Homo sapiens: one gene and its partner. The protein of the gene in region 1 interacts with the protein of each later gene in a pairwise test. Each region holds a gene or a part of one and is shown in the gene's direction. Other genes may lie near its edges. The genes, in order: ENOPH1 and TMEM132D.

Evidence for each region.
Region 2: the proteins of ENOPH1 (region 1) and TMEM132D interact in a two-hybrid assay, tested with the Homo sapiens proteins (one large-scale study listed by BioGRID).

What each region holds. Positions count from the first base shown.
Region 1 is NC_000004.12:82,457,869-82,461,691, forward strand, and holds the end of ENOPH1 (enolase-phosphatase E1), read left to right. Parts: intron 1-2,112; coding exon 2,113-2,252; 3' UTR 2,253-3,309; downstream 3,310-3,823. UniProt on the Homo sapiens protein: Bifunctional enzyme that catalyzes the enolization of 2,3-diketo-5-methylthiopentyl-1-phosphate (DK-MTP-1-P) into the intermediate 2-hydroxy-3-keto-5-methylthiopentenyl-1-phosphate (HK-MTPenyl-1-P), which is then dephosphorylated to form the acireductone 1,2-dihydroxy-3-keto-5-methylthiopentene (DHK-MTPene).
Region 2 is NC_000012.12:129,701,353-129,705,175, reverse strand, and holds part of TMEM132D (transmembrane protein 132D precursor), read left to right. Parts: intron 1-3,823. UniProt on the Homo sapiens protein: Regulate neuronals morphology via inhibition of the WAVE regulatory complex (WCR), a complex that controls F-actin cytoskeletal dynamics.

The sequences.
Region 1 (3,823 bases):
TATTTGGGATCACATAGTACATCTATAATTTCAGATCTTTCTCTTCTCATTTAAGCCATTTCCTCAGTTGCAATTGTAGAAATTATTCCTAATTTTGGAGAATAGAAATAATCCCTAAATTGGCTTCAAAATGAAATTAGCTCCCTTTGATTCTCTGTAAGGAGGTTTTATTCCTGCCCTTCATCTTCTGCTGGCCCCATACACACTTAGGCCAGAACTTGGGTCATCGGCAGCTGGGATGAGGCAGGGAGCTGTCTGCCTGCTTGCTCTTTTCTCTCTGGTCCTGTTTTGGTACCACATGCCCAGACTTCCACTGCTGAGGCAGAATGAAAAACTAAGTTAATATCCCAAATAATGGCTGGGCGCGGTAACTCACACCTATAATCCTAGCACTTTGGGAGGCCAAGGTGGGTGGATCATTTGAGGTCAGGAATTCAAGACCAGCCTGGCCAACATGGTGAAACCTTGTGTCTACTAAAATACAAATATTAGCCAGGCAGTAGTGGTACACGCCTGTAATCCTGGCTACTCGGCTGGGGGCTGAGGCAGGAGAATTGCTTGAGCCTGGGAGGCGGAGGTTGGGATGAGCCGAGATCATGCCACTGCACTCCAGCCTGAGCGACAGAGAGAGACCCTTCTGAAAAAACACAATAAAATAAAAAATAAAATCCCAAATAATACCCAAGTATGAAAAAGTGTCTCAGCATTACAACAGTAGAGCAAATAGATGCTTAGGGATAAAACTTGCCCTGCAGTGAATTAGATAAAAAGCCTGAATATGGAACGGCCACTTGTAGTGTCAAGTCCCATGTGGATTGTGATGGCTTAACTTGGTCATATTCCCGGGTTGCCAGTCACGATGAAAACTTTGCTCAGGGCAGTCAGGCTAGGAAGTAGGGGTGAGTGGAAGATAGCTGCCTTTCTCCAATGGCATCTGCAGAGGTGGTCTGAAGAAGACATTCCCACACAGAGAGGGGAGTCTTGAGTACTGTTTGCTCTGGGAAAGTGACAGGCCCTTTCACAGGCAGAACAGAAAGCAGGCACTTGAGGAGGTGGGTGGGTGGAAGAAACAGCTCAGCCCCAGTGTGTCTCCTGGGAACTTAACTCTCTCAGCACGACTGCCCTTCAGTTAATCTGTTCAGGTGCTGTGACTCTTCTCCAAAGGCTGAGAAACTAATGGTGATTACTCTTACACCAAATCTAAATTCCACGGGATTTATATATATATATTCCAGATTTCTCACCAGTTTTGTTCTATCTGTCCTAGTAAGCGCCATCTCTCTTATCACAGGCCTGTATCCCATTTCCCACTCTAACTTGCTCCATTCTAGGCTGGGAGTATGACATGTTTAGGGTCTGGAGGTAAGAGCAGATATCTTGGGCTGATTAAACCATAGGATTCCATTTGTCCCATTATCTTCTTTGTGTTTTTATTTTTTTGATACAGGGTCTCACTCTGTCACCCAGGCTGGAGTGCAGTAGTGCGATCTCGGCTTGCTGCAGCCTTGACCTCCTGGGCTTAAGCAATCCTCCCACCTCAGCACTCTTGAGTAGCTGGGACTACAGGCACACGCCACCACGCCCGGCTAATTTTTGTATTGTTTTGTAGAGATAGAGTTTCACCATGTTGCCCAGGCTGGTCTCGAACTCTTGGACTCAAGTCTGGCGTTCAAGTGAACTCCTGGGTCCACCGTGCCCAGCCCCATATCATTTTAATTCGTGTTACCAACAGCTTGTCCTTTGGGAAACAGCTCAGTTCTCGGTATGGGCTGATGGGAGGAAGTGGAGGAAAGGTGTAGGACAGAACATGGCTCCATCCTTCTGCATTCATAAGTACTTAATAAAGCTCAGAAGTGTAGGATACACTGCCATTCTCTTCTGTCAAGTACAGTTACGTATTTTTTAAAATTTTATCATGGAAAAATTAAAACATACATAAAAGAGATAATAATATAGTCAACCCCAGGGTGCCCATCTTTTAGCTTCAACAGTCATCAAATCAGGGCCAAATTCATTTCTTCCATCCCCACATCCCCCTGCTGACTTTGCTGCAAATCTCAGACATCATTTTTTGGTGTTTCTGACACACACACATCCTTTGATTTTTCACAGAGGCCAGTGCTGCTGAGGAAGCAGATGTGCACGTAGCTGTGGTGGTGAGACCAGGCAACGCAGGATTAACAGATGATGAGAAGACTTACTACAGCCTCATCACATCCTTCAGTGAACTATACCTGCCTTCCTCAACCTAGAGAAGGGTTGTTAAGGCAGACCGCCCTGTTCCCCAGAGTTGTCCCTGTAGTGTCTAGGTTTATTCTAATGGTAAAAGTAACTTACTTAAAAAACATATGTACACATATGTATGCAAGTATGTATATATGTGTATGCTCAGATTAACTTCCATAGGTACATAAGTGAAAGAAGTCTCAGTTCAGTGAACACAAAACTTATTTAAAGATGCTTTATATGTAGAAATTGTTTCAAATCATACTCTAACCCTTAGTGAGGGCAAAGTGTAGTTGGTAGAAGAAATTGCTAAATACCTATCTAATGTGCTATGTTTATCAAATCGTGTACTAAAATGGAAAGCTAGTTTTGAGAAATTATTCAGAAGCCTTGTTATTTTAAAAATGAAATATTTCAAAGACTGAATATTTTCAAAGAAAATGAATAATTCATTGCCCTTGTGATTTAGAAGATTATAACAGCTGTATTTCATATTTGCCTCCTTATATATATCAAAGACCAAGGTATTTCCTTCTGCTTCAAAAGAACAAAATTGGGAAAGAAAACTCACTTGAGTCTTGATCAAACAAGTGTCTTTTACTTAAGAAGAAACTTGGTAATCATTGTGGCACCCACAGCAAGCAGTTGCCTTACCAGTGAAAAAGGTGCACTGAGGTAACATCTAAAACAGAGATGTGGTTCTTAATGTTTAACAGAACAGTTCTAATCCTGCCACGTGTTATCATTATAGATTTTATAGTTGCCTTTCTAACTACTTAGCACAGTTTGAGAATACGTTAATTGCTATTTACTATTTAAAAAGTTTTACTGAAATCAGTCCATAACATTAAGATGAGCCCTAATATGTAAGATTTTCCTCTGGAATGGATGTGAGAAATGTAAATTTTATAACAGCAGTATTTATCCTGGTTTAATTCTAATACGATGTCATGTTAATTTCATGTTGTGATTAATAAAAGCATTTTTTCTTCACTCAGTTTTATATAGGTTCCTGAACTCTATCCACATGCCGCCATAGCAAAAGAGAAACTGAAAAACAAGAATATTTAGCTCTTATCTTAATCGTGTATCATGTGTGTGTTTTAATGGAGTGCCGGTGGCAATTCATGGTTATTATTTGAGTTATGTATACATATAAGGTTACTATTCCATTTGGATAGTAAGCATTCAGGATATGAGTGGAGTTCCTTATATTTTTGAGAATCTTAACTTTGAGGTCTCTAAGGTAATGCTTGAAGGAGGGAGTTACTCTCCTAACTAATCAAGAAAAACTCACGAATCCTGGAGGAGCAATTTTAGAAATGCTTTGAATAAGGAAAAAGAAGTCTTAGAACTATGAGAGGACAGGGGATATAAAAGATTTTATGTTGATAATTTTGATCTAGTAGCCAATTAAGAAATCTAGGGTCTATGAAAATATATGAATAAAAAAGAAAGGAAATGAGTTTAGGTACATCTTAGAAATGGGAATAATTTGTAAATGATGATAAAACCACAAATAGTAATAAAAGGATGAACTTAATACCTTTTTTGGAAAGCTCATAGGCAGATGGCAGAAAGGGGTATATCTTAATGT
Region 2 (3,823 bases), on another chromosome or scaffold:
CATCTGAATATTGAACATCTAATGTGCATCTCACATGGTTACAGCCTCTTACTGATCATTTCCATTGCTTCGCCTTTTCTATTTAGCTGTAGGGAAAGCTTCAAAAGCTCCCATTCTCATATGATAAATTCAATTTTCTGCATTTTTCAAATCTGTGTTATTGCATCTGAAACCATTTTAAATTCCTTACTTTTAATACTTCAGGATCTTCTTCCATCTCAGTCTTATTTCCTTACAAAACAACAAAGGCTCTGCTTTTCTTGATGATTGTGAGCTCCGAAGTCATTTTGTATAAAAGGTACTTCAATATTCTATGGTAAATACTCTTCAAAGGTATGTTATTCCTCTACTTCTTGAATGTCTTTCTGAATTTCCTTCGTTACTCTGCAGCTTTTATTGGTAGGTCCTGTTCTCCTTCTGTTTTTGTTTATTTACATATCCTTCACCGAGGGCAGCCTTGTTTACATTGGCGTTGCATGTTACCATATGACCCGGCATCCCTGGGGGGACGGTGAGGATGCTCTGGGGTGTTGACATGCCCAGCAGGGGAGATCCCTTGCTCCAAGGTGCCTTCTGTGAGTTGGGTGCAGGGGCCACATGGGCACTGGTTTCCTGTAAGTGATTTTAGGTTTGGACTCATTCCAGGAGCAGTGTGGCTATGTCAAACCTCCTGCCCCCATCACTGTCTCTGTTAGGGAAGAACAGCATCAGCAAGACGCCTTGATGTTTTAGGGCTTTCTGTGCAGCGCGGCGCCCCCTATGCTTGGGTCTCTGATTCAGCTGATGGCAAAGCTGGTTGCCTCCCAGCATTGGGAATATTGTCAGGTGCGGGAGCACCCACATGGCCCATGGCCTTTGCTCTTGCAGATATCAGGGTAGATTTGTCAGCTGCCTAGATATCAGATATCTTACAGCTATCTACTCAGCGGACAACTATTTTCTTTCTATGACAATACCATGCTGAGGATTGCCAGATTTGGGAAATAAAACACAAGATGTCTAGCTACATTTGAATTTCAGAAAAACACCATTTAAAAATATTTATTGTTAATTATAAGCATGCCCTATGGAATATTTCTGTTTATTGGAAATCAAAACATAATTAGGTGTTTGTGTTTTATCTGGCTGCCCTAATCATTCTGTTTTCTATGTGAGGTATTTGAGTCCCTTGTGAGTCCCAGTAATTCTTGCAGTCTATGGCATGCAGATTGTACCTAATTTTCAGCATGGATGTAGATTTTTTTTTTTTTTGCCTATTACCGTATTCGATTAGTTATTGCTTTTGAGTCCACATAGGGGAAAACTGAGAGTCTTGTGCTCAAATTGCCTTCCTCCCATATTTTTTAAAAAAGTATTATTCAGGGAAAAATGATCCTTTCAAAAATGTTAAAATTAATACAAAATCTCTCCCAGACCACTGAGTTGCTTCAAGATGCGAACATGTCACTCTCCTTCAAGTAAGAATTACAGCCACGGAACCCAATCAAAAAGTAATTTTTGTCCTTAGCGAATTATTAGCTGAGATTTACTGTGTATAGCTTCTTTGTAATTTAACACTTTGCTAATTTTTATGTTAAATAAAAATCATGTCCTTTAGTGACAGTAACCATTCCTGTAAGGATGAGAGGATAATGAGTTTTACTTCGTTCATTCTGTGCATCGTGGACCATAATTGGCATTATTTTTGTAGTATTAGTTAAAAAAAAAAAAGAAAGGAAGTGACACTAGCTTTAGGTCAAAATGGAGCAATTTTAAGCAATAAACATTTAGGTCAGATACCAGGCAAAATGACTAATAGACCATTTGTGGAATAAAGCTAAGAAGTTACTTCCCTTCAAATGATGTTCACAGTGACCCCGATTGCCTTATTGCTTTCCTGAATAAAATCATAGGACCCGATGTCATTGCCCTTGGAAGGTGTAATTAGCTGCACAGTTAGGTTTCATGTCCTCAAGTAGTCGGGGTCAGATGTTCAACAGGGAAGTTCACGGAGCCTTGGTGTCTGGCATTAACATTTAAGCATCTGTAATTTGGTTGTCTGGCTTTGGCTGTTTCTAGCACGAATGGCAAAAGAGTGCTGAGGCAGCTCAAGGTACTTGTTCTGAGTGGTGCCAAGATGTGTTTTTAACAATAGGGGACACTGTATCAACTGATGTAGGTCTTATAGGAGTCTCATTACATGGAGAGGCCCATCTTCCTTAGTCCCGTATCACCAGGATTACACGGAGCTCTTAATGGGATAAAAGGATCCAGGATTCCGATTACAGTGATGGAAGCCAAGAGGACAGTGAATAACATCCTAGTGTAAAAACAGAATCTGCTCTTTGTGACATAAAAAGCATAATCCACATGTTGATTTATTCATTCACGTGTTTATCAAATATTTATTGAGTACCTGACATTTACCAGGCACTCTCTTAAAGACTGTGAATACAGCAGAGAAAAAAGCCTTGCGTGTCATTTCTGCTCCCTGGCATATCACACACTGGAGTGCATAGAGAATCACAGCAAAGCATAACGTGTTTTGATGCAGGAAGCTGGGGATGCTACAGAAAAACCCAGATGGAGACCATAACCCAGAATCATACAGTCAAGGAAAGGATCCCAGCAAGGTGACTTTGATAATGCAGCCAGAGAGGTCACAGAACTGTGGCTAGGCAAATGGGGAGAGGGTGCCCAGAGAGGGGCTGAAATATTCTTTGTCTCTTCTTTGTTTTTACTATAACTCACATGTGAAGATACAAGTTTAGAGATAATATCAATCAGGAGTTATTTCTATAAAGTTAAAACATGTAATCTTTTTAAGGCATGGAGTCCCTTTTTATATCTATGATATTTTGATTTTTGAAAACAATCCATATTTATGACGTTGAACCCTAGGAAATTGTCATTTGGGTGGATGCAGACTGCTCACTTATAAGCAGTCTCAAATGGTTCAGTCCAAGACAAGCCTTAGTTGTTTATATGGAAGCTCAGCCTGCTCTGAGTTTGGTCATGCCGATGATTGGAGAGATTTTTTCATCCAGGGCTTTCTGTAAACTCGGGTTGAATACATGCGTTGAACTTCTTGTCTAGAAGTTAAACTGGATGCAGCCTGACACCCTGTGTTATCACAGCTGGGCTGAGGCTACAGTGCTGCAGTCAGCCCCCTCATGCTACCAATGGGTCCATGGGAAACAACGAGGGTCAGTGACCTGCTCATCGTCTCACAAAGCCGGGAGCAGGACCCCTGCCTCCGAGCTCTTGGCTCTCTCAGCTGCTGGCGGATGACTGCCAAGAAGGGTCCTGACTCGGGAAGGCATCAGGCTTCCAGATGTGTGTTTGCGTGGGCCTTTGAGAAAGGTGGAGCCATGAGTGTCCGAGTAATCAAAGATAATTACATGGTGACTGACGAGAAGGGCTTCAGCATAACTTGTGGAGCTTTGCCTAGAAAGTCAGTGTTCCCAGCCAATAGTTTACATTTCTAAAACTCCTTAAATTGGTTCTTTGGATTATGCAATTGCTCTGCCTGCATTTTTCTTACAGAATGTAAGGCAACTTGTGAAAATAACATTTTGGATTTTTCTCCCCCTGAGGGAGAGATACGTTCAGTGCGGAAAAATGAACAATGGATTTTGTTCGTTGGTGACGGCGTAGTGTCCACAGGATGTGGCTGGCATGGAAGCGAGGTGCTGCCCTTCCCGTGCTTCTTAGGTTCAGGGTCCAGTGTTTCATAGATGACTTGGAGCATTGCTTTGTACGCCCGGCCCTGACACATTGGTGTCGTGGTCACCTCATCTCATCTATTTCTAGAGGGCCCCTCCCAATATATCCTTCCAAGGTA